5 separate regions of the Homo sapiens genome follow, and regions 2, 3, 4 and 5 are each linked to region 1. The links come from fine-mapping of genetic effects on gene expression. A gene starts in region 1. Each other region holds a variant in brackets. All regions are shown on one strand. Distances are between the middles of the regions.

Evidence for each region. PIP is the estimated chance that this variant, and not a neighbour inherited with it, causes the effect. A credible set is the group of variants that fine-mapping cannot tell apart.
Region 2: its variant is the best candidate, but not a certain one, in a credible set for the expression of GXYLT1 in whole blood (INTERVAL, PIP 0.60).
Region 3: its variant is the best candidate, but not a certain one, in a credible set for the expression of GXYLT1 in monocytes (Quach 2016, PIP 0.68).
Region 4: its variant is the best candidate, but not a certain one, in a credible set for the expression of GXYLT1 in spinal cord (GTEx, PIP 0.88).
Region 5: its variant is the best candidate, but not a certain one, in a credible set for the expression of GXYLT1 in monocytes after R848 (Quach 2016, PIP 0.60).

The regions. Positions count from the first base shown.
Region 1 is chr12:42,141,783-42,146,890 of GRCh38, forward strand. GXYLT1 (glucoside xylosyltransferase 1) reads right to left here and starts at 3,092. Exons shown (of 8, transcript NM_173601.2): 1 at 2,644-3,092. The coding sequence starts at 2,864. RefSeq lists silencers at 2,480-2,709, 2,790-3,289 and an enhancer at 3,450-3,519.
Region 2 is chr12:42,086,645-42,091,752 of GRCh38, forward strand. It overlaps GXYLT1 (glucoside xylosyltransferase 1), which reads right to left. Exons shown (of 8, transcript NM_173601.2): 8 at 1-1,303. The coding sequence ends at 1,142. It also overlaps the pseudogene LOC101929308. Among named protein-coding and RNA genes, the nearest start is that of GXYLT1, 56 kb to the right of the region's middle. The variant A/G (reference allele first, on the strand shown) is at 2,532.
Region 3 is chr12:41,998,934-42,004,041 of GRCh38, forward strand. The region is part of intron 2 of LOC105378247 (a long non-coding RNA gene); the gene reads right to left. Among named protein-coding and RNA genes, the nearest start is that of GXYLT1, 140 kb to the right of the region's middle. The variant G/A (reference allele first, on the strand shown) is at 2,733.
Region 4 is chr12:41,988,757-41,993,864 of GRCh38, forward strand. It overlaps LOC105378247 (a long non-coding RNA gene), which reads right to left. Exons shown (of 4, transcript XR_944875.4): 3 at 133-424. Among named protein-coding and RNA genes, the nearest start is that of GXYLT1, 150 kb to the right of the region's middle. The variant C/A (reference allele first, on the strand shown) is at 2,031.
Region 5 is chr12:42,008,837-42,013,944 of GRCh38, forward strand. The region is part of intron 2 of LOC105378247 (a long non-coding RNA gene); the gene reads right to left. Among named protein-coding and RNA genes, the nearest start is that of GXYLT1, 130 kb to the right of the region's middle. The variant G/A (reference allele first, on the strand shown) is at 2,789.

The DNA.
Region 1 (5,108 bases):
GAATACTGAGAACACGGGTTTATCTGACTACAAGACCCATGTATTTTCTGATTATTAAAATCATGGCTTCAAACAGAATACACTAACGGATAAGAGATTCCACTGAAAAACTGTTCCTTTCATTTTAAAGTTCTTACTTCAAGGACTCCAAGTCTTTTGTCGTCATGAAATTCTATACCATGAATAGTTTTTATAAGATCTGACCAATGGAACTTACTGGGTACAAACCTAGATCCCGTGTTTAAAATAAAAAGAGAGAAATAGTTATAATCTTTCAAGTAAGATGTTATCAAAAAAGGCAAAAATGCAATAATACCTAAGTACTACTGAAAAGAGGAAGCTGCTGGCTTGCCCCATAGCCCCATTGCCCACTGAGTCCACTATCTAAACTAGACCCTTATCTTTCTTTACAGAAAGAGCTCTTGTATAACACTCCAAGGATACAGTTTCTAATCCTCCTCCAACACTGATTTGCTTTGGATCTTGGCCAAATGATTTATACATGAAGAGGTTAGGGATTTCTATACCGTATCTCATGGTGGCCAAAAAAGTTAATTTTTTTTTTTTTTTTTGAGACAGGATCTTGCTCTGTCACCCAGGTTGGATTACACTGGTGCAATCATAGCTCACTGTAGCCTTGAACTCCTGGGCTCAAGTGATCCTCCCACCTTAGCCTCCCAAAGTGCTGGGATTACAGGTGTGAAACACCACATTCAGTTAATTTTTTTTTAATTTTTTTATTTTTTGTAAAGATGGGTTGTTGACGAGGCTGGTGTCAAACTCCTGGCCTCCAGCAATCAATCATCCCCACTCAGCCTCCCCAAATTCTGGGATTACAGGCGTGAGCTACCGAGCGTTGCCAAAAGTTGATTTAATTCTATGACATTTCTATAAAGATGTTATAAATGACGATATACAAAATAGAGTCCTGAGGTCTTAGTAATTTGCGTGATCTTAATCTAACCATAGAGTAAAACTTCACAATCCAACTTTTCCACGTTGTTCCCCTGCCCAAATGGTTTCTTATGCGCGCAAATGTGGTGACATGCTGTTCTTCATCACATTTTTACAAAGAGAGATAAATACACCTATAGTTCTAACTTAGATGTACGCCTCATTTAAAATAAAGAGTAATGCTACTCAAAGGACCTAAAAAAGTACAGTATTTCGGTTGACTCAATCCTGACACATAAAACTTAACGTTTCAGTAATGATTATATTGGATGTTTATTAAAACTGAGGCTATTTTCGAAAATTTCAAATAATTTTATTAAAATTAGCTGGTCAAGCAAACAAAATTTGTAAATTTCTGTCACAAAATAAAATATCTAAGACCAAGGCACTAAAAATGTGATGTTAACATCAGTCTAATTTCATTCAATATTTAATTAAAATGTTGCTTCCTTACAATTCTACCCCATATAAAAATAATTCCTTTTCCATAATTGCAAATGCTTCACAATAACATACTAGGCCATAAACAGTTTAGCTTCAACCTGTCATTTTTCACGAGCTCATTCAAGTCTTCAGTGACTGCTTTCTCCCAGGACAGACAACTGAGGGTCCTGATGTAGGAATTACCCTGACTGTAATCAAATCTCAGGGTAAAAACATGACAAGTCCGCTTTCCACGCTGCTCCTCTGCCCAAACTTTCCCCTTTCATTCTGGGAATGACCATCGACTCTCAAAATGATGTTAAACAACAGCCCACAACTGATCTATACTCCCTCTTCCGACAAACCCTATACTTCTCTATATCAAAGCAGCATTTGCCAAGTCTTGGTAGGGAGCACTTCAGGTCATTCCCAGAGAGATGCCCATACATAAGGTGGAAGTGTCCATGTTGCAAGGCAGTGCAAACGCTCAGATTTCAAGCATTCATAATGCGTTGACAGAAACATTTTTTTTCTATTTAAATCTCATGTTGATTCCCACTCTGGCAGTGATTACGTCCTAAGTCATTACGTCGCTTTTTAAATACCAATTTGTCAAGAAAGGTAACTCCATCCCATCCAACAACAGACTTGAGCACGCCAAGTATCGCTCATTTTTCTTAATTTGCTCTAAGTTTCTTAATAAACTGAGTGTTTCCAAAAGAAAATTTCACAACCCGCACAAATGCCATTTCCAAATTTAACTAACCATGGCTAATACTTAGAAGTGTAAGCGTTAACACAGGAAAATCAGCATGAGGGACAAAATACACACACATATACACTCACACACACACACACAATCCTTAAACACTGAACTAGGGCGCCAGCCTCATGTTTAAATATCTCAACTTGAACTCCACTGAAACAAGAGGAAATTCTCACTAGCCAGGCAGCAGTAAGGCTTTTGTGGACACCTCTTATTTTCAAAGAACCCTCTTTTTAAAAAGTTGAAAATTAATTTCTAACTGCTTTAAAGGGCGCATGACTGGGTCAAAAGATAAACACAGAAAGTGTAGGACACTCTCAGGCGGGAGCAGCGCAGGTTTAGCCCCGGCCGGAGGGGAAGGAGGGAAATGAGTGAGGGGTCAGAGACAGGAGGAAAGACGCGGGAGACGCGGCACCCACCGGCGAGCAGCCCGGGCTAGGCCGAGCCCGCGCCCAGCGCCCCGCGCCCGCCGCGTCCCCCACACCGGGAACTGCCCGTACCTGTCCGACACGCCGGGATGCGCTGCGGGGCCCGCGACGCCGGCGCCTCTCACGGCGCCGCGTCCGCCGCCCGCGAGCCAGGAAGCCACCGCGGCCTGCGGCTTCCCGCCACCGCCGCCCGTTCCTTCTTCCAGGGACACGGCGAGCTGGCTGAAAGCGTAAAGGAGCGAGCAGAAGCCGCAGGCCACACACAGCACCACGACGCGCAGGTAGCGCCGCATCGCCCCGGCCGCGCTCCTCCTTCGCCGCCGCCGCCGCGCCCGCCCCGACGAACTGGAGCGGAGGGAGGGGCACCGCGCAGCCGCGGGCGCAACAAGTTCCTCACCCGCAGCCGCCGCCGCCGCCTTGCGCCCGCTCCCTTCCTTCCCTCCCCGCCCACCACCTAGGCGAGCGCAGTCGCGGCTCCGGAGCCGAAGGACTACCCGCCCGGAAGCCTGGACACCGCCTCTGCCGCCGCGCGCTCAAGGGTCAGCGGCAGCGACGCAACCCCGCCCCTCCCCCGGGCGGGAGGGCTGGACGCGCCGGCGCAGTTCGCGTGGGAGGGACGCAGGGCTGGCGCGCAGAGGGTGGTGTGAGTGCGCGGAACGCGGCGCGCCTGAGGGCTATAGCTAGCGCAGGCCGACGCGCAGGTGAATGGGAGCCCTGTGGGTCTCGACCGCCGAGAGAGGGGGAGCGAAAGCCTCAGGGCTCTGGAGGCAGTTGACCTAAATTCTAATTATGGTCCTTCCACATGGTAGTTTGTGACATTGGGCAACCTAAATTCTCTGAGCATGTTTCTTCGTCCCTAAAATGGAGCTACTATCCTCATCATGGGGTGGTTGTAAAGATTAAACTGTTTAACGCTCGAAAACCGCCTAACACTTAGAAGACACTTGACTAGGCCAGTTTCCTCTCCATCCTCCCCCAGCCTCTAAGTTTCTGTGATACTATAATGTGCACGAGCCATTTTCACCCCGATAAGCTCATTGCTTCGTGTGTTTGGTATGCGGACCTTACCTCTTGCCTCCCAGCAGACAGTGAGTTCCTGTAAGGCAGGGCTCTTCCCTTTGACCTTTTTGACCTCCCTCACAACTCATTATTTTCATGTGCAAAACAATTAGTATTCTCTCCACAGAGCTTCTTTCTTCCCCAGTTCTTCTCCCTCTTCTTCTGTGTTTCCACTACGTTCATTCATTGACCATTTATAAAGCATCACTTGTGCCAAGCTCTGTGTGAGTACCTAGGGGTATAAAGAGGCCTAAGTGGAGCGTGGGTGGGACAGCGGATACTTGTAAATAAGCGCAACGCAGTGATAACAGACTTAAGATCCAGGCCTGTAAGGGTGTGGGCATACACACAAAGGAACAATCAGTTCTATCTGTGAGTATGGTCAAGAGAGACTTCATAGCAAAGGTGGCGCTAGAGTCTTGAGTCGGGTAAGGGAAGTAATTCCAGGCTGAAGGATCAATAAACAGGCTCTTGTGTAGGGAACTGTTGAGAAGTTTGATACCACCAGCTAAGTGAATGCAAGAGAGGGTATGATGAGCGATAAGCGCGTAGAAGGGGCCAGATATTTGAGTGCTTTGTTTAGCACACCAAGGAGTTTGAATTTAATCTGCAAGACATTAGTGAACCATTGAAGGGTTTTTAAATAGGGAAGTAACATGATCACAATTGCATTTTAGAGAGCAGATTCTGGCTGTAGTGTGGAGGCTGAAACAGAGAGAGGAGAGATTGGAGGCAGAAAGCAGCACCAGTGCCAAAAAGTGAGGGAAGGGATACTTAAAAATACACACACACACGAACACACATTCATGGGGAAAAATCATGCGTTTAACTGCTGAAATTGCATCTGGGGCGTTGAAAAGTTTGGCCATGAGATACAAGGTGGGGAAATGCTGCGCAAAATAGTAGCAGTCTCCATTTGGATCCTTGGCTCCCTATACCAAAAAAGTAGTGGTTCTGTGACCATGATAAAGTCACTAAACAAATTTAAGGTTCAACTTCCTCCCCTTCTTGCTTTACCTGATAAAAAATGAACATTAGCATGCTATCAAGATGTGTAAAGAGAATGAGAACATACATTTATGCATTCAATAAACATTTATTGAACATATTCTACATGCCAGACAAGGGGCTCTGATGCAGAGTATTCAGAAATAAAAGGAGTGTACTGCTCTCAAAGGGAAAACAGGCAAATAGAAACCACAAGTATACTAAATTAATACTTCCACTACACCTTACACTTCTTAGAGAAATGAAGATAAACTTAACGAAGTATCCAGAATGATAGGAAAAGCATTGATAAGAATGAAAATACCTTTTGAGAGAAAGCTGAAAGATATGGTACCAAGAAACTAGAGTAAGAGCTAGTACTCAAAAAATGTTTAATTTAAAAGATACTAACTATAACTCTTCTCTATTTCAACAAAGAAACTAAACGTAGTAATAATTAAGAATAACTCCTTGACCCACAGATGGTTAAA
Region 2 (5,108 bases), 55 kb before region 1:
TCTTAGGTGATATTCAAAAATGCACATCAACCCAATTAAAACCACATTTTCTACAGCTGGATGTAACAATCTTATTCCAAATCATCCACTTAAGTTGTTTAACTTACTTAAAGTAAGGCTCTAGACATTTGCTTCTTCAAAAGTATCTTGCAAGGCCGTTATGAGGTAGAAGACAAGTTTAAATGGACCATATTTTTCTACTCCATTGTAACTAAAATTACTACTCACAGGAAGTATATAGCTTATGCATTTTGGTCCATCACACTTTCCACCATCATGAGTATACTCTTAAGGTTCTCACTTTACCATCAGCATAATATATTTTGCTTCCAGAATGCCCAGTAAAGCTGACGTTTTTCATTTAAAGTGATTAAAAAAAAATTCCCCAAATATCTATTTAACAATCTTAGATCTGAGTTTTGGCAAGACAGTTTAATGCATACAAAATGAAACACTACATTTCTCACTCTCTCTCACACACAAACACGCACACACAGATTAAAATCCCAAAGTTTTCACTATTTTTCCTCTACCTTACACAGCTCAATTTTTAACATGCAGCTTACTTGTAATCTAAAAATAATTTTAAACATGATTGTCATAAAAATATTTTAAAACAGAGATGAAATGTATAAAGGCACACATAGATTGTCAATGGTTACATCAGTTACATCACATTTCTTCAGAAACAACAGACCTGTTTCTGCTCCTGTAAACAAACTTTTTTCTCACACTTTTAAAGTGAGGTTAGTGCTGACATAAAATTATTGCTCTACTCACAGTCTTGAGTGTTGGCACTGTTTGAGGTACATTTTCTCCATCTACACACCCCTACCACTCTTGAGAGTATGAGTCAACAGAAGTCTGCAGGTTAAACCCATTCAATAGTATTTTCATCAATACTGGAATGATAGCAAGTAACATTACAAAACATCAGAGATAAAAAATGTTCAATGTTGAGGCCCAAGATTTTAACTTATTCTTCATTACCTGAAAATACTGCTTACTTAACTTCTTTAGGAAAAAAAAAATTATTCTGGAGATGAGTAATTCCTTCCTGAATACTTCATCCAAGACGATTCCTTCACACTTATCTTCTGATTCTTTGTTTTCATCCATTTGATTAAGCAGTCACCAAGAATCACTTTTCCTTTGGTGATCTGGCATAACGATCTCTTACACTTTTTGCTAGTTGTTTGATAAATATTTTGTAAATTTTTCCACAGTATGTATGCACTGTTTTTTGTAGTTCCAGTTCTAAAGGTTTTAATAAGGAACGGATGTTGTCATCTTCAAAAGAACACTAGAGAAAGAAAATTTTAAAAAATAAAAAATTTAAAAGGCAAAGGTACATATGTAAGTTCAATTATTTTCCAAACTTCTTCAATCAGTTTAATATGAACGATCTCCATTTAACGTCTCACAGAAATTAGATGTTTAACAAATATTTTCAATAAATTAAACAGAACTATTATCTCCCATTAAAGAAAGACAGCCATGGTAAATCTCCGGGGGAATCCTGGAGAACATGCGCAAGGGCAGAGAAGACTGAAATACTGGTTAAGAAGACAACCAAAAGCCCTACGAGTATCTCGGTGAAACTAATAAAAGGTGGACTGGCTAAAAGAAGAGCTTTACCACACACCACACCCGCGTCCCACCTTTTAAAAACCACTCTGGCAATAATACTGCTGAGGCTGGAATGGAAGGAAATGAAGTAAAGGCATATGGTGGGAGGAATGTAAGATGATAACATAGTTCAGCATGTCCCACAGAACCCTAACTGCACAGAAGGATCCCAACAATAAACACATTTGAAAACTGCTAAATATTAGGCACTCTTCATGGGGATTCAGACTAGCACAGGAAAAAGTCTAAAAAGTAAAACAGAAAATAAATCTGTTGAGTGTTGTCTGACCTGTTTGTCCCAAGATATATTTTTGGCTAGAGTCCTTCTTTTACTATAAAATATACTAATATCGAGAAATAAATTTTGGAAAAGGCTGTGGTAGTAAAGTGGAAATAATAAGTAATCTTTGTATTTTCAACCAGGTATTTTGTGATTTAGTATTTTCAACTAGGTGTATTTTCAATTAGAAAGATGGATGGGGCTTAAAAGTAGAACATTTTATATGGAAGTTGAAGTTGGTGAAAAATGCAAAATCACAAAGGAAATTCAGAACCAGAAATCTCCCAGGTTATCCCTGAGGTTCACTAGCACGCTGAGGGAGAGGAAATGAAAGAACCACCCCAAGCACACTTAGTGAGTCTGCAGGAAGCTGCAGTCAATCTACAGAGAAGAGGATGAACTTGGATGTTTGTTTAAAACATGGGTTTTGTCACTGTAGAGATGCAAAGAGATCCTAAACTTTGGCATCTTTTGAGCAAGAAAAACTGTAAGCATTAACTGCATAAAACCATCACCCTTGGAGTGATTTTTAAAAATCAATCACACATACTCAAGATAAACGTCTAAAATTGTTTTGAAGATAAAAGTTTTAAAAAGAGATGGGGAAACTTAGCCAGGAACA[A/G]TGTAATAAAAATAACAATAGCACACAGAGTGCTTGCTACCTACATGCCAGGCACCATTCTAAGAGTTGTATATGACTGCATGTTCTCATTCATAGGTGAGAACTGAACAATGAGAACACATGGACACAGGAAGGGGAACATCACACATCGGGAACTGTTGTGGGGTGGGGGGAGGGGGGAGGGATAGCATTAGGAGACATACCTAATGTAAATGACGAGTTAATGGGTGCAGCACACCAACATGGCACATGTATACATATGTAACAAACCTGCACGTTGTGCATATGTACCCTAGAACTTAAAGTATAATAAAATATATATACATATAAAAGAGTTGTATATGTATTAACACATTTATAATATAGGTAATATTATCTCCATCTGACAATGAAACAACGAAGGCAAGGAGAGAGGATTTTCTCAGTTATAAATGCAGTAAGTGGTTAAGCCAGGATTCCGTCCCAACAGTCTAGCTCCAAAAGTCCATGCACTTAATTAACCACCAGACAGCACTACTTATCCAAACATTAAGCAAACAACACCATGCCAAGTCAGTTCAAAAATCCTGTTGAAGGACGAAGCTCAATGAATGGTGGAAATCTGGGGAAAGTGCTGTATTGTAAACAGATACACAAATTTGTTTGGGGTTAAAAGTGTAGCCAGGTTGAAGAAGGTAAACTTCACCAAGTGATACTTTCAAGAAATATTTCAATGTGCACAAAAAACACTTGAACAACTGGTTGAGTGGCAGAAAATTATGGGAAGCCCAAACTACTATGATCATTATTTTTACTATATGACAATAAAATGAAAGCATTTAAGAATAGAGGAAGACTATTGATTCCCAGGAGTATGTAGTACTCGAGATTAAGTTTCTTTGTTTTCATGTGATTCAAATCCCAGTGTTTGTGGTTAAAAAATGTTTTCTTCTTCACTGGAAAAAAAAAGCCATTTGATGAATATTTTCTTAAATAAAAACAGTGTCTCATTAGTTAGACCTCTTTCTGCCCATCATATGAAAAAAGCAATCTGACCTCTAAGGAAGAAGATAAATTTCCAAAATTTCCACCTATATAAACATAGCCTAAAGACACTGCATTCTTCCATTTACATAATCTGCAGTGCCTGCATATTTGTACAGTACATAACCTACATCTAGGTGTCCCTTTCCCAGAGGCCACACGTGCCCTTACCTGACTCCAGACCTCTTTTTATACTATATACTATGCCTGACTTATCCTTACCTTTTCTTCTCTGCCTGGTACTCATCATCCTTACAGCTTAGTTCAAATGTCAGCTCCTCTGAGAAGCCTTTCCATGTACAGTTAATCGTTCCCTCTTTTCAGTGGCACAGGGCCCAGTACACTGATTTTTAGGAAGCTCATGCTTTATACTGTCAGTTGAACGACATGAAATAGTGAAGCTGTGATGACCATAATTAGGCAATTTGAGGTATTTTCAAAGAATAGTACATCTTTGGAAAATACAGGAGAATGGCAGTTCAATCCAACAAATCCTAAGTGTTCACTATATGCAAGTCAGTACTATGGGAAGGAAAACATTCAAGACTGCTTTGCAGAGAGTTTTGCAAATATAAGCAAGGTGTAAAGTAAATCAAAGTTAACACAAAACATCAAGAAATATAATTCAGAATGAAATGCATGATGCAGAAAATACCTTATAGAGCCATAAAATGTTTTGTTCTGATTTTGAATTTGTAATTTTTAAACATTTTTATTCACTCAACAACTAATATTTAACAAATATGCATGGACTATAAAAACAGATTTGCTGGTAGACATAGCCATGAATTCACACTTTAAAGATGGTTCACATCCTTTATAATTCATACTGTTCACTGCATTCCATGGCTATGACTAAGCCTCTGTCTGAAACTTGCATAAATATCCTTGTCTGAATACAATTCTTTTAAAAATTACACTTCTTACTGAATTACAGATAAGGAAATATAAAAACACTAAGCAGGAGCATCATAAAAGACAGATTAACTTCATTAAGTTGAAAAATGAATAAATGTAAGCTGTAGTTAACACAGACCCAAAACAAACACAGAAGATAATTAATCATCTGAAATCCTTTTAAAAATAAGATTTTTTTAAAAAAAAATCAAGTGTAATTAATCAACTTAAAACTATTACTCGTATTTTTAAAGGTACACACTTATAAACCAAAGAAAAGATCAAATAAAACCAGGGAAACTTAATTCTCTAATAGTAGATTTTTTTTAATACTCAAAGGAAACAAAGGAAATCTCATTTTTATAGGAATGCATTTCTTTTCTATCCTGCAAAGTCTCAGAACCCCACAAGCACTTTTCTTCATTTTTATCACCTTCTGACAACCCATAATAAAGCATTATTAAAATACAGTATTAATTTCTGAAGGCATACAAAGCCTGCTACATTAAAATGAACATCAACACTAAATTTTATAATTCATCAGTGAGTATAGTCATACCATGATAAACTGATTGTTTAGAAGCTGTATCTGTCAAGTTTATAGGACAAGAAACTTAGCTACTAATACACTAGAACTGTAGCCTACAATGCTGTTAG
Region 3 (5,108 bases), 140 kb before region 1:
CTCCTCTACCCACCTCAGCCTTCCCCACTCCCTGCCAGCCCCCAATTCCCTGCCTCTGTAACCATGGAGATGCCTGGAGTGGGTCCAAGGCCGGGAGTGGCACCCACAAAATCCCCTGAAGGGCATAAGAAAACACAGTTGCTGGGGCCCACTCCAGAGTTCCTAATTCAGTTGGTCGTGGTGGGCCTCAGAATCTGCATTTCTAACACATTCCCAGGTGATGCTGAGGCTGTGGGACTGGGAACCACACTTTAGGTACAACTCATCTAGGTTCTCAGGAACCAAGGCTCCCTTGATGGGACTCCAGTGGGAATGCCGTTGTGCTCAAAGACCTTTCTGCGGAATAGGATGTGATCATATACTATCCTGAGAGGATACTGATCATGTCATACTCCATAGAAAGACTCCAGAGCTATGTGATTTCCAGGGAATTCTCTACGTGCACACACTACACACACACACACACTTGCAGGAAGATGCAGGGCATGCTGGGAATAACTCAAATTAGGCACACAACTTATTGGCTTGAACAATTGACAGACTAGCGAAAGAATAAGTATAAAAATAAATAATTAGAGAACAATGTGAAAAGTGCTTTAGAGACAGTATCAAATGCTGTGAGAGTCCCTGGACTGAGACCAGAAGAGTTAGGAAAGATTTCAAAAAGGATGCAGCATTTGACCCAGGACTCAAAGGATGAACAGAAGTGGAAAGGATGAAGCAGGGAGTTCGGCAATCAAAGGACCAGATGTAAAACCAGCCAAGACAGCTGAAAGAGCCTGCTACTCACAGAAAACAAGGAACTTCATGTGTCTTCAAGGGAATGTTTGGAGATTCCTGTATATAAGGCCTTAAATACCAACCTGAGTTGAATCTTGAAATAGCTCAAAGATTTTCAGGTAAGATGTGTGTTTGCATGAGAGACCAGCTCATTATTCTTCTAAAACCAAATTTGGGCTCCAGTCCAGTTCACCGAAGCTGTCTGTGCCCTTCGAGGCCATCCTGGAGTTTGAGGAATGGTTGGCCACAGAAATCAAATAGGCTTAATACATTGGCTGGGAAATTGAGACATCAGAGACTATTCCACACCCTGCCATCTGAAGATACTGAAAGGGTAGGATCTGGCCGGGCACAATGGCTTACGCCTGTAATCCCAGCACTTTGGGAGGCTGAGGTAGGCGGATCACTTGAGGTCAGGGTTTCGAGACCAGCCTGGCCAACATGGTGAAACCCCGTCTCTACTAAAAATACAAAAAAATTAGCCAGCATGGTGGCGCACGCCTGTAGTCCCAGCTACTTGGGAGGCTGAGGCAGGAGGATCACTTGAACCCAGGAGGCAGAGTGTGCAGTGAGCCTAGATTTCACCACTACACTCCACCCTGAGTGACACAGTGAGATTCTGTCTCAAAAAATAAATAAATAAATAAAATCAAAGGGTCAGTTCTGTTCAAGACCCAAGAAGCTCACCTGGAGCTGACCCTGATGGGAGCCTTCAAAGCTTGGCCATGTGATCAGGAACCATGCAAGCCAGCCACCTGAGTGTCCTGCTGGTGATGATGAGGCCATGGAGACCGTGCTTGATGGGCAGCCACTGGACTGGACACACACGTGAGCCAAGTGCATAATAATGATAAAACGTAATAAGATCGCTACTGTACAGGTATAAATTTTGCAGTCACAAACTCAGATGTACAAAAATGGAACTTTAAAAAAATTGTGTCCCTAAAATCCTGGCCACCTTAGCTGTCAAAGTGCATTCCACCTGAAGCAGAAAACTTAGTCTAGTCAGTTTCAAGAAAACTTAATCCAAAGTTCTCACCCTCTGCTTTTAACTCTTTTTTTTTTCAGCCCACCAGAGATTCTTTCAGTCGCAGGACCTAAAGCAGCTGCCTGTTGGAATAGAGCGTCCTTTCTCCATCTCAATCTGCCCCAGTCACACGCTGTGTCCGCTACTAATATAACTAATATATACTAATATAACAGAGGTTCTCACTGTTCTGTCACTAACCACACTGTAGCTGCTGCTGAGCCATGCAGGCTCCGCCCTCCTCTCTGGGCGCCAGAACCATGCTGCTCACCTGGAGCCTTCTTGTCTGGATGGCAAGGCCTCCTGGGTCTCTGGCCACTCTCAGCCACTTCTTCACCCCTCCCAAGACTAGAGAAAACTTTCCTCACTCTTCCACACTACTTCAGGGGCCAGGAAACTTGATGATAATGGGCTGTAAACTCTTCTCTGCTCATGCAAACCACTCCACCATTTTTAATCTACTGGGAACTCCATTGGTGCAGGGGACCCTGGATCTAAGTGGCTTTCTGTTCTCTCAGACTTCACCTAGGAAGAAAATCACAAGCATCCCTGCCTTGGAACTTTCCTCTAGACTTACCTGGGCTTTCCATTGTCTAATCCCTGCCAAGGACTCATCCCAGGAGGTGTGGGATTCCTTCTCCAACACCCACCAGCTGTGGTGATAGCCCCTCCCTCTAATTCACCTCCTACTACCAACCAATTGAACTTTTCTGTCTTTCTAATCAGTAAAATTTGCCACTTAAAAAAAATAAACTTCAGGCCGGGCGCGGTGGCTCACGCCTGTAATCCCAGCACTTTGAGAGGCCTAGACAGGCGGATCATGAGGTCAGGAGATAGAGACCATCCTGGCTAACACGGTGAAACCCCACCTCTACTAAAAACACAACAAATTAGCCGGGCATGGTGGCGGGTGCCTGTAGTCCCA[G/A]CTACTCGGGAGGCTGAGGCAGGAGAACGGCATGAACCCAGGAGGCAGAGCTTGCAGTGAGCTGAGATCACACCACTGCAGTCCAGCCTGGGTGACAAAGCGAGACTCCGTCTCAAAAAAATAAATAAATAAATAAACTTCAGCTACTTCCAAATTATTTGGATCATATACCTTGATCATTCATTTGTTTATCAAATATGTATTGAGAATCTAGGTGTTAAGTATGTTCTAAGCACTTAGGAAGAAGCTCTACACTCATGAAGCTTACATGCTAGAGGGAAGAGATGAACTAGAAACAAAAAATATGATATTTATTATTACACAATTACAATTAGCATGTGTATGATAAGATTATAGAGCAGATGTATTGATTAAATTGTGTATTAGAAGATGGTATGTGCTGTGGGAAAAAAATCCCAATGCTAAAGGCTGAACTCAAACCAATAAATGAGATTCTATAGGTTGGGGGCCATGGCGTTGGTATTTTTTTAAAAGCTCCCCACTTTTAATGTGCAGCCAGACTTGAGAACCTCTGCCTTATGTCCATGAAAGCTATCACTATTGCTCTGTGGGAGTTCTTTTATTTATTCATTAATTCATTCAATAAACATTTAGTGAGCACCTACTATTTTCTGTCATTGCTCTAAACACTGGAGATAAATCAATGAAGGAAAGAAACAAAGTCCTTACTCTCATGCTGTTCACATACCAGAGGATTATTTTTTCCTTCAACATCTCATTTAATTCTCAAAACCTATGTATGCAGTGATCATTATTAGCCCTATTTCCCAGGTGAGGAAACTGAGCCTTGATCAAGTTCAGAAACTACTAAGTGACAGAGCCAGGACTCACACACAGGTCTGGAGGACTCAGGAGACCTCTCTCATAATAGCATTTCCCAGGGAAAGGCCTTTATTCATGCTTTTTTCATTTTATTTTCAGTGCTTCATGATGGGTCTGTTTCATGATGTAATTTAATGGATTAAATTTGAACAGCTGGAAATTGTGTAACTGATTACATTCAGCTTCCTTCACAAATTGCTAATTTGATTCACACCTGCTGATGTGACACCTGGAGGGAGTAGAAGTGGGTGGGTGGTTAGGCCTCTCCCACATATGTGCTAACTGATTGGGTAAAATAAAGGTTATTTTAAAATCTCAAATGGGCCATGACTTGTGATTAGGCAGACCACGTAGCTATCATTGGCTTACCTGTTGGAAACCTGGAAATTATTTTAATCAAAGCTAGTGAATTCTGAAATCAATTTTTATTAAATCCCTCTATATATGAGATCATATATTTATAGGACATTCTAACTTTTGATCAGCACTTCATATTCAGTACAACTGTGAGTTATTTTAAAGACACATTCTGTTATGAGCTCAACTGTGTCAGCCTTCTCTCCATAATTCACATGTTGAAGCTCTAACTTCCAGTACCTCAGAATGTGACTGTATTTGGAGATAAGGCCCTTCACTTAAAAGCCTCTAAGGCCCCAAATCTATCTCCAAATACAGTCACATTCTGATTCAGTTAAAATGATTAAGTCGCATTGTGATTAAGTTAAGGTGAGGCCATTAGGCTGGGTCCTAATCCAATCTGGCTGCTGACCTTATAAGAAGAGGAAATTTAGAAACACAGAGACACCAGTAATGTGTGTGCACAAAGACCATGTGAGGACACAGTGAGAAGGTGGCCATCTGCAAGCCAAGGAGAGAGGCATCAGGAGAAACCAGACCTGCTGACACCTTGGTCTTGAACTTCTGGCCACCAGAACTGTGAGAAAATAAATTTCTGTAGTTTAAGCCACCCAGTCTGTGGTATTTTGTTATGGCAGCCCCAGAAACTAACACACATGCATAATACATTTAATTCAACAAAAAATTACCACTCTATACCTGACATAAAACTGTCCTGTTGAGAGATCTCATGGCCCTGTATTCAAGGAATTTGCAGTCTTTTAGCGAGACATACACACGGATGAGACATTTAGAGAATAATAAGAGGTCCAAGGCCCAAATGAGCAGGAGAGGAAGTAAGTGCTACTCCAAAAGGGTCAAAGCCAAGATAGACTGGCATGGGTCACAAAAAGAATAGAGTTTGAAAAGCAGGGAAGTGTCAGGTAGGGAGGGGAGGTGGAATGAACAATAGTATGCATTTGATCCTGCAATCCCACTACTGAGTATCTACCCAAAGGAAAAATCAATATGTCAAAGGGATACCAGCACTTACATGTTTATCACAACACTATTCACAATATCTAGAATAGAGAATCAACTTAAGTGTCCATCAGTAGATGAATGGACAAAGAAAATATGGTATATATACACAATGGAATACGATTCGGCCATAAAAAAAAGAAATCATGTCATTTG
Region 4 (5,108 bases), 150 kb before region 1:
CCTTTAGCCCATGTTAAACTTTTTGAATGACATAATTTACAGCATTGTTTTATGTACCTATTGTGACACAACAAACTGCCTCAGAAGTTACTAACTTGAAACAACAATTTGTTATTTTTCTCAATTCGGTACCTTGGCTGGGCTCAGGTGGATGGTTCTTCTGTTTCACATGGCATCAGCTGGGATCACCCTTGCAGCTGCCTTTAGCTGGGAGCTCAGCTGGAAAGTCCAAGATGGCTTCACTCATACATGTGGTGAGTCTGTGGGTGTGACTGGGATAGCTGGGCACTGTCTTGGCTTCTCTCTCTACATATCTTTCAGCTGTCTTGCTCAGTCTTCTTTACATAGCAGCTGGCTCCCAAGAAGTGAAGCAGAAGTTGCCAGGCCCAGGCTCAGAAATCCAGAAGGTCACCTTCACTGCATTCTGTTGGTCCAAGCAAGTCACAAGGTCAGGCCAGGTGCAAAGAGAGGAAAATAGAGCATATCTTTGGATGCGGACATCCTTCCACAAGGATAGGGAGAAATTGTTGGGAGGAAGTATTGGTGACCGTCTTTGAAAGTACCCACCAGAAATATTATTTGTAAAATCTGGGTTTCAGAGTCCATAGAAAACTACTCAATTATGACTTTTTAGAAAATATCTCATCCATTCACAAACAAAAGTTATTTTGTGTAAACATTCTAACAACTTTTACCCTTGATTTCCTCGGAAACATTTATTTGAGGATTGTAGTAGATTGGATAATGACCTTCAAAAAGACATCCAAACCCCTAGAATCTGTGAATGTGACCTTATTCGGAAAAAGAGTGAAGATGTAATTAAGAATCTTGAGAGAAGATCTAACTAGATTACCCAGGTGGATCCTAAACCCAACGACTAGTGTCCTAATAAGAGACAAAGAAGGAGAAAACACATAGAGGAGAGGTAACATGAAGATGGAGGCAGAGGCTGGAGTGATGCGGCCTTACATCAAGGAAGCCAGTGAATGCCTGGGGCCACTGGAAGCTGAAAAGGCAAAAATGGATTCTCCCTTACAGCCCCCAGAGGAAGTATGGTCCTGCCAACACCTTGATCCAAGACTTCTGTCCTCCAGCACTTTAAGAGAATACATTGCTGTTGTTTCAGGCCACCCAGTTTTCTGTAATTTGTTATGGCAGCCATGAGAAACTCATACAAGTACCTTCCCTCTTTACGATTAAGACTAAATGTTTGCCTACCATTTGGGGATTGTGATTTATAAGGCAATGGCTGTGACTCTTGGCTCCTATTTCTCCACACACTCAGCAGAGTTATCGAGTAAGGGCTTTACCAGAAAACTCACCTCTGTGGAGGTCCTGAGCCAATCCTGACAGGAACACATAAGATGTTAGAAGTCTCTGCCTCGCCAGATCCTTCTGAAAACATCTTGCTGCTCACAGTTACCTGAGCCACAGCCCCTCCCTACATCACCTTCGCTCATTCCTGGGTGGACTCAAGCTTTGGGATCAGACAGAGTTGAAGTTGCAACAGGATAACATACATGTAAATTCTCAGAGCTCTTGCTTCTTTCTCAGTAAAATGGAATGATATCACCTTCCTCACAGATCTACTTCAAAAATTAAAATTAAGTAAACCATCTGGCACATAGTAGGACCTCAAGAAATGGTGCCCATTATCACTACTACTTTTAAGCGGTACACAGTTGCTTATCTGTTTCATATACCTGATGCTCAGTGGGGCTGGAGCCATACTCTAAACCCCAATCTGATTAGCAAAGCCTCTGACCCCTTTCCTAACCTTTGCCAGCTAATTTGCCCCTCCCAAATCAGCTGCCCTCCATGACCCTCTGGCCTCAGCCTCCCAGGTAGCTGGAACTACAGGGATGCACTATCAAGTCTGGCTAATTTTTGTATTTTTAGTAGAGAGAGGGTTTCACCATGTTGCCCAGGCTGGTCTAGAACTCCTGGGCTCAAGTGATCCTCCTGCCTCAGCCTCTCAAAATGCTGGGATTACAGCCATAAACCACCATGCCCGGCCCGGCTTCTGATTC[C/A]GACCTTCCCCTTCACACAGGTTTTACTCTCCAACAAACTTTTCACACTCCTAACTCCAGCTCCTCCTCACTGGACCCAGCTGACATCTACCCTACCACAGTGGTTCTCAAAAATATGTAGTCCCAAAACCAGCAAGCATCATCAGCATCACCTGGGAACCTATTAAAAATGCAGATCTCAGACCCTAACCCTAATCCAGACCTACTGACTCAGAAACTCTGAGGTGGTCAGGCCCAGCATCTGTATGTATGTAACAAGCCCTCTAGGAGACTCTGACGCACGCATTCTAAGAACTGCAGCCCTACTATATTTCAGTAAGAGTTCACATTACCTGATTGCCTCTGCAGTAAATGAATCACCTGCCTGGGGTTCTGTAAGAGATGCTGCTACCCACCTCTGCAGACCACTCAAATAAAGAGGACTACATCGTTTGCTGGGCAGCAAGACCTTGCCAAAACCCAAGGCTGCTTTCTTTTTATTATTATTATTATTATACTTTAAGTTCTAGGGTACATGTGCACAACGTGCAGGTTTGTGACATATGTATACATGTGCCATGTTGGTGTGCTGCACCCAGTAACTCGTCATTTACATTAGGTATACCTCCTAATGCTTTCCCTCCCCCCTCCCCCACCCCACAACAGGCCCCGGTGTGTGATGTTCCCCTTCCTGTGTCCAAGTGTTGACACACTGGATAGGCCCAGTTTCTGTCTCTCCAAACCCAGACTCTCACCCGCCTAGCCACTCCACTGGAAGTAATGGAATCAATGCAGTAAAGTTAACAGCAAGGTCAAAATCAGAGTTTGAACTGTAAAGGTACAATATCTGACATTTATTTTGCCAACTGCTTTCTATAGCATCTCAAGTGTTTAACAAATAATACCTTCTAATATTTAATTTTTCAGGGCTCATGGTGTATTTGATGCTTCATAGGATGTGGATTCAGAGATCAATTTTATCCTGCTCTTAAATTCTGCATTTATCTTGCCAGGACCCCGTGAGCTAGGCTGTAAAAGCAAACCATGTTGACAAAATTCGGAGCCTACTGTAAGCACCCAACCGCTGGGGTATTCCTTGCACTGACCCACCCTGGAGCCAATCCTCAGCCTCTTTGGCCCCTCCTTGAAATAGTTCAAATAGATTCTGTTATTAAAGCTTCCTCCTTAATTACTGACATATGTGCAATTCAGGTTACTTTCTTGCAATTATGTTATTCAGCAATAATTGGATTTCTAGTTTTAATTGGACCCTAAATTAGCAATAGCTTTCATGAACACCATTACAGTGATTTCTAGCTATAGTTTTTGCTGCTTTTTGAGTACATTATATTTCAAACAGAATGAATCACCAGGAAAAGAAGTCACAGCTGCAGTGAACTCTTGCATGGGTTCCTATTAATGATTAAGAGTTGGGTGCTATTCTGTTGTAACTAAACATTTGCTACAACTATTACCCACTGAGCATTGCTGTGTCACAAGGCTGCCTCCTGCCCAGGATGAGAGCACATAATTGTGTTGGGATGAAGATCCAGCCACATGACTAGATATTTACTCAGCTAAACGGGGAAGAGAATCTTTTTCTTACCACCTGCTACTGCAGATAAACACTTGAAAATAAAACAAAAGAAAACCAAACTCTTCTTAAAAGCTGCTGAAATCAAAATTTTGCTGAAACTACCAAAAGCATAATCCCATTGCTATCTTCCTTTCCTAAAGGGACTATTTACTCAAATCAGTGCAACAAATATTTGCTGAGCATTGGCAATGTGCTGGTTATTGAAAAGGATGCTAAGCTAGTAAGAGACAACATAGTGATGTGGTTAAGAGCATGAGATTTGGAGTCAGGCCTCCTGGGTTAGAATTACAGCTCTGCTGCTTCTTGGCGGTATGACCTCCAGCAAATTACTTACTCTCTCCGTGGTTCTTTTTCCTTATTTGACAAATATACCGCAAAGTTCTTGTGTGGATTAAATGACTTCCTACATGTAAAGGACTTTTTAAAGCACCTGGCACATGGTAAGCACTTACTAATGCTCATTTTATTATTCTAGTTCAAGGTAACAAAGACGTCATCTGTCTTGTCCATCACTGTATTCCCTAGCCTCCAGAATAGTGACTGATTGATAGATGATAAGTGCTCAAGAGATGTCTTTTGTCTAATAGGGAAGCCCAACACTACAGGAAGTGCCCAAAGAAGGGGGGAATTTAAAGAAGAGAGGAATTAGATCTAGTTTGGGAGTGTATCAGTCAGGATCTTGGCAGGAAACAGAGCACATTCAAAGGGGATGATTAAAGAGCATTTCATGAAATAGCTACTTAAAAAGTTATGGGGGCAGATTAAGAGAAACAAACAAAAATGGTGAAGGATCACAGAGTCAGCAAGAACAGAGAACTATTACCACCCATCTTAGTCCATTTTCATGCTGCTATAAAGAACTGCAGTATTCTGGGTATTTTACAAAGGACAGAGGTTTAACTGACTCACAGTTCTGCATGGCTGGGAGGCCTCAGGAAACTTACAATCATGGTGGAAGGGGAAGCAAACATGTTCTTCACGTGATGGCAGGAAGGAGAAGTGTCTAGCAAAGAGGGAAAAGCCCTTTATAAAACCATCAGATCTCATGAGAACTCACTCACTATCATGAGAACAGCAGCATGGGGGTAATAGTCCCCATGATTCAATTACCTCCCACCAGCTTCCTCCCACAACATGTGGGGATTATGGGAACTACAGTTCAAAGTGAGATTAGGGTGGGGACATAGCCAAACCATATCACAGCCTCAGACTCACAGGGGCCCAAAAGAGCTGTGGAGAGAGCTCCTGACAGGAGCAATGGCCTTCAGCAACGAGTACAGTCTCTGCTGACCTCCAGCCACACAGGAGGGGAGCCAGGGGAATCAAGACCCTGACCTCTCTCTCATGTCCTCTGATCTTGTCCTGTTGGCCAAACCCAATGGGAAGCAATATATGTGATTCTTTATTTTTGCATTAAATAATAAAATCTAGACACAGGTATAGTAATGACCATAAATTTGAAGTGGAAATAAGTGAAAATGCTATTTTTATACATCTGCTAA
Region 5 (5,108 bases), 130 kb before region 1:
GTCAAACATGATTTCAGTTTGGGGTCATCCACCAAGCATGAAGGTTGTGGATAACAGTATTATTAATATTCCATAAATTCTTTATACAGTACTCAGTGGAAAATCATCATTTGTAATATTTATCTGGTGCTTGAATGAGAACATGTGATAATATGACAATTCAATTTTCTACTTTGACATTTCAAATATGACCAAGTCATGATAATCAATCAGTAATACGTTTATCATCCACATGAAGCCAATTATGCACCAATAATCAGTGAAATTTTGAACTTGTAACCTAGACCTGTGTGCAGTAACCGACAGTGAAGGTGGAGACATTTGCTGTAATTGTGCTGTTATTGCTTCTAACAAAATGTTTTATACCCGAAAGGGCAGGCAGCGCTTTTAAACCCTCCATTCCAGTCTGGCTCTTTATTACAAATTGCCTTTTGAATCATAAGCTCTTTAGAAGGGCAATGTGAGGTGCAGTCATAGAAGATGGCATGAGTCCATGACTCTGGAGTCGACTAGACTCTGGTTCAAATCCTGGCTCTGCAGTTATTAAGCAAGTAACCTTGAGCAAGAGATTTAAGCTCTCTAAGCCTCAGTTTCTCCACCTATAAGGGGGGGATGGTCATAACTACCTTGCGGGGCTACGGAAAGGTTCACCGTCATGTAGGGCACATGGTGCACAATAAACAGTAACTATCATAACCAAAAGAATGTAACCAAAGCTTAAAAACTAAGATCATGTTTTTAAAAGAATAATTTTTAAACTTCTTATCTAGGCTGGGCACAGTGACTCACACCTGTAATCCCAGCACTTTGGGAGGCCAAGGCAGGCAGATCACCTGAGGTCAGGCGCTTGAGACCAGCCTAGCCAACATGGTGAAACCCCATCTCTACTAAAAATACAAAAACTAGCCGGGCATGGTGATGGGCACCTATAATCCCAGCTACTCGGGAGGCTGAGGCAGGAGAATCACTTGAACCCAGGAGGCGGAGGTTGCAGTGAGCCGAGATCATGCCATTGCACACTAGCCTGGGCAAAAAGAGCCAAACTCCATCTCAAACAAAAAAAAAACTTCCTATATAGATGAATTAATGTTAAGAGAAATATTTAAAACGTAGCACCCATTATAATCAAGTATCTTTTAAAATATTCTGATTACTAGACAACAATTATATGCACTATTTTAATAATATCGTAAAATGGTTGCACTTTGTTCTTTGTTTATTGCATTCTGAAATCCCATGTTAGAATTATAGGCATATAAACCAAGGCTATTAAGAATGCCTGGTAAAAGCACTTACTGATGCATCATTTAGCCTGTATTTTGTCTTTGGAAGAGAGAAATCCAAATGGCTGCTTCTTTCAAATGTCACCCAGATACATACTGTTCATTTGAGATCATCTAAATTATGGGTGTGTGTGTGTGCATTTTAACTCAACTTTCCATGGCACCCCACAGAAAGTTTCCATCCTCTGTGAGACAATTGAGAACACCATCTGGGACAATTGAGAATACCGTCTGGGACTCAGATGAATTATGATGTTGCCAATATACATGATATGCATCACTATAGGAGGCTTCCCATGAGCCTCTTCTCTGGTCCCAAACAGTGGGCCTCAGACCTCATGGGACTGCAGTTATTGCCAGAGATCCTTGAATCACTATGAGCACAGTCATTCACTGTGTGCAGACTACATACAGCATATTATCACACACAGATGTGTGTTTCAGATATCTATTACTGTGTAGCAACCCCCCCACCCATGAGAAGCCAAAAAAAAAAATGTATTCTTCTCTTCTAATTCTGTGGGTGGATTGGTGGTTCCACTGCTCCACATGGTACTGGCTGAAGTGCTAGGATGTCAACAGTCATCTGGGGGCTTGGCTGGGCTGGAACATTCAAGATGTCATGCTCGTACAATTGCCTATTTTTGGTTCTTGGTGGGAAGCTCAGCTGAGGCTGTCAACCACAACACCTATATGTGAAATTTCTATGTACATGGGGCTTCTCAGAGTGGCTAGGTTGCAAAAGATAGCACCCAAAACGGACGTATTTTTAAAAGGCAGAGAGAGGCAGCAAGGCTTCTTATGCCCTAGCCTTGGAAACCACACAGTGTCATTCTGTTGCTCAAAGCACTCACAGGACCAGCCTGTGATTCAAGCAGAGGGCAATTAGACCTCACTTCTCAATGAGAGTTCTGCTGTTTTCCATGTGTCTTTCAATGTGTAATTGACAAAATACAAATTTATTGAAGGGCATATTGGATTTTTAGTAAATGTCAATCATTAAATATTTTTTCAACCAACTCATAAAAGTGTAAAAGCAATTTAACAAGATGATTAAGCATTCACGCTGTGCAGTTAGATGGGTCTGAATTTAAATCCCTATACCTATTGGCTGTGTAAACAGGAGAACATCACTAAGCCTCAATTTCTCCACATCCAAATCAGCAATAGAAACAGACTTCCCAGTGCAGTTCTAAAGATTGCATTAAAAAAATGCGTGGTAGATGCTTAGCACTCAAGATAATTAGCTCTTGTAGTTGATGTGATGCCAGGAGGCTGCTCCTGCTGACCATTCTTCCTCCTCTACCTGCCTCCCTGACCCCATCCTTCCGCTCACTTCAACTGATGTTTACATAAACCAATGGGATGGCTACAATGCCCGACATGTGCTGTGGCTGGAAAGCGTCTATAGCTAGAAACTCACTGGAAAGATCTATTTTAGCACTTGCTTATGCATAATATTTAATAATGACAAACATAATTTAAGGGGCAAAATATTGATAGAA[G/A]AAAAGGGAAAAATTTAAAAAGTAGCCCTACTATAATCAAGTTTTTTTTGTTCGTTTGTTTGTTTGTTCATTTGTTTGAGATGGAGTCTCGCTCTGTCACCCAGGCTGAAGTGCGCTGGCACCATCTCGGCTCACTGCAACCTCCGCCTCCCAGGTTCAAGCAACTCTCCTGCCTCAGCCTCCCAAGTAGCTGGGACTACAGCTAATTTTTGGGGCTAATTTTTTGTATTTTAGTAGAGATGGGGTTTCACCGTGTTGCCCAGGCTGTTGGCGAACTCCTGAGCTCAGGCAATCCACCCACCTCGGACTCCCAAAGTGCTGGGATTATAGGCATGAGCCACCGCGCCCGGTCATAATCAAGTATTTTTTAAAAACTTTTCTTAAACCTCATTGCCTGACAAAGAAGTCAGGAGCTAATCCCTACTTAGTTTAGTAATCACAAGTGATGACTTAGTTCTGGCCTACTTGCCATGTTTCTTGGGACAAAACTGACTGAGCAGCAGAATCCAAGGACTATGGTGCATAAAGAGTTAAAAGTAGTATCTGAGTGCACAGCGGTTAGATCAGGTCTCAAGCCAAGGAAAGCAGGGCAACACAGAGCAAATAACCAGGAACCAAAAGAATCAGCCTGTGTGCTTAGGGTAACAAGCAAGAGCAGATTAATTAAATGGGGTAGTGGGGACAGGTAGGAAATCCAACTGGATGGAAGCCAAAGTTCAAATCTCAGAAGCATCAGAAGGTCACAGAAAGAATTCTGCAGCTTCCCTGGGGCTGTTCCCCTTACTGTCTGTTCCAAGCAACTCTTTCTCACCTGGACAGGAAAATGGCCCTGTGTAGCTTCTGATCCAAGTTCAGTCCAATCTAGCCCAAGTTTAGCCCAGTGAAGTTCGTGGTAACCTGAGAGCTTAATGCAGATTTTAAAGTGAGAATTTTGCTCAATTCAAATATTTTCTCAGAAGGAAGTTCTTTGGCCCTGGGCTATTCCAGTGACTATTTCATCAAGAGTGAACTGGCTCTGCCTACAAAATGTATGAGGTTTCTCCTCCATATATGGAAGCCAACAAGGGTTATCCACATGAGAGAAGCTGTGGAATCTTGCTCTGTCACCCAGGCTGGAATGCAATGCAGTGGCATGATCTTAGCTCACTGCAACCACCACCTCCTGGGTTCAAGCAATTCTCCTGTCTCAGCCTCCTGAGTAGCTAGGACTACAGGCACATGCCATCATGCCTGGCTAATTTTTGTATTTTTAGTAGAGACGAGGTTTCACCATATTGGTCAGGCTGGTCTCAAACTCCTGACATCAGGTGATCTGCCCACCTTGGCCTCCCAAAGTGCTGGGATTACAGGTGCAAGCCACCATGCCCAGCCTGAAATCTACTTTATAAAGTGTTTTGGAACCCCTGAGGGTGAAAATATTTATAAAAGTTAAATGAACAGGCCTCCCTCTGGGAGACACACCTCTGGCATGTCATGGTAAAGGTAAAATAGAGGTAAAATAAGGTTCTAACAAAGCTCTCCTGGTGTCCCCAACATAAAGCCTTTTTTAAATGCTGCTGGAAGGATCTGCCTACTTCTGCATTCCACACTGCAGTAGGTGCTGTTATATATTAAGACCCCAATGAACAAAGCATTTTCAGTAATGGTATTTCTCCCAGTCCTTTGTCTATACATACAAATTTGCTGAGCCGCCTGTATTTATCATCCCCATGTTTGGTGCTATATATTAATAATGTTGAACAACAGATTTATAGACAAGGCATTAGACACTGAAATTAGACTCACACTAAGACTTTCATATCTTACTGCACTATTTGTTATACTTTTGAGAGCAACTTTTATATGCCCACTCTTTCTTAATTTATAAGCTAGAAGAGAGAGCCATCATTTTATATTCCTGGTGGTACATTTTATATTCTGTCAGTACCACCAAACAAGAAACAGCTTGCTAGGACTCCAGGTCCCTTGGAGAATTCCTCCAAAGCATTGATAGTCAGGGAAGCCCTCTAGTCACTACTCTGACATGTATTGCTTATATATTGAATTTTTGCTTAAGCTCAAGAGATTGTAGTTGGATGATTGAATGGCTCAATGGAATCTCATTGCTTTTTGCCCCCTCTCTCTGAGGGAGATGCTTTTCCAAAAAGCCTCATTGGCTAGACTACATTTCCACTGAAAAGAAGGGTTTCCCTTCTCTAATCCATGATACAAGCCTGCTAGTAATCCTTTGACAATATTCAAATGGCTATCCCACACCTTCAGGTAGCCATTTACTGCTTAAAGCCATTGTATCACAGAAAACTTGGTTTATATCTGTTGG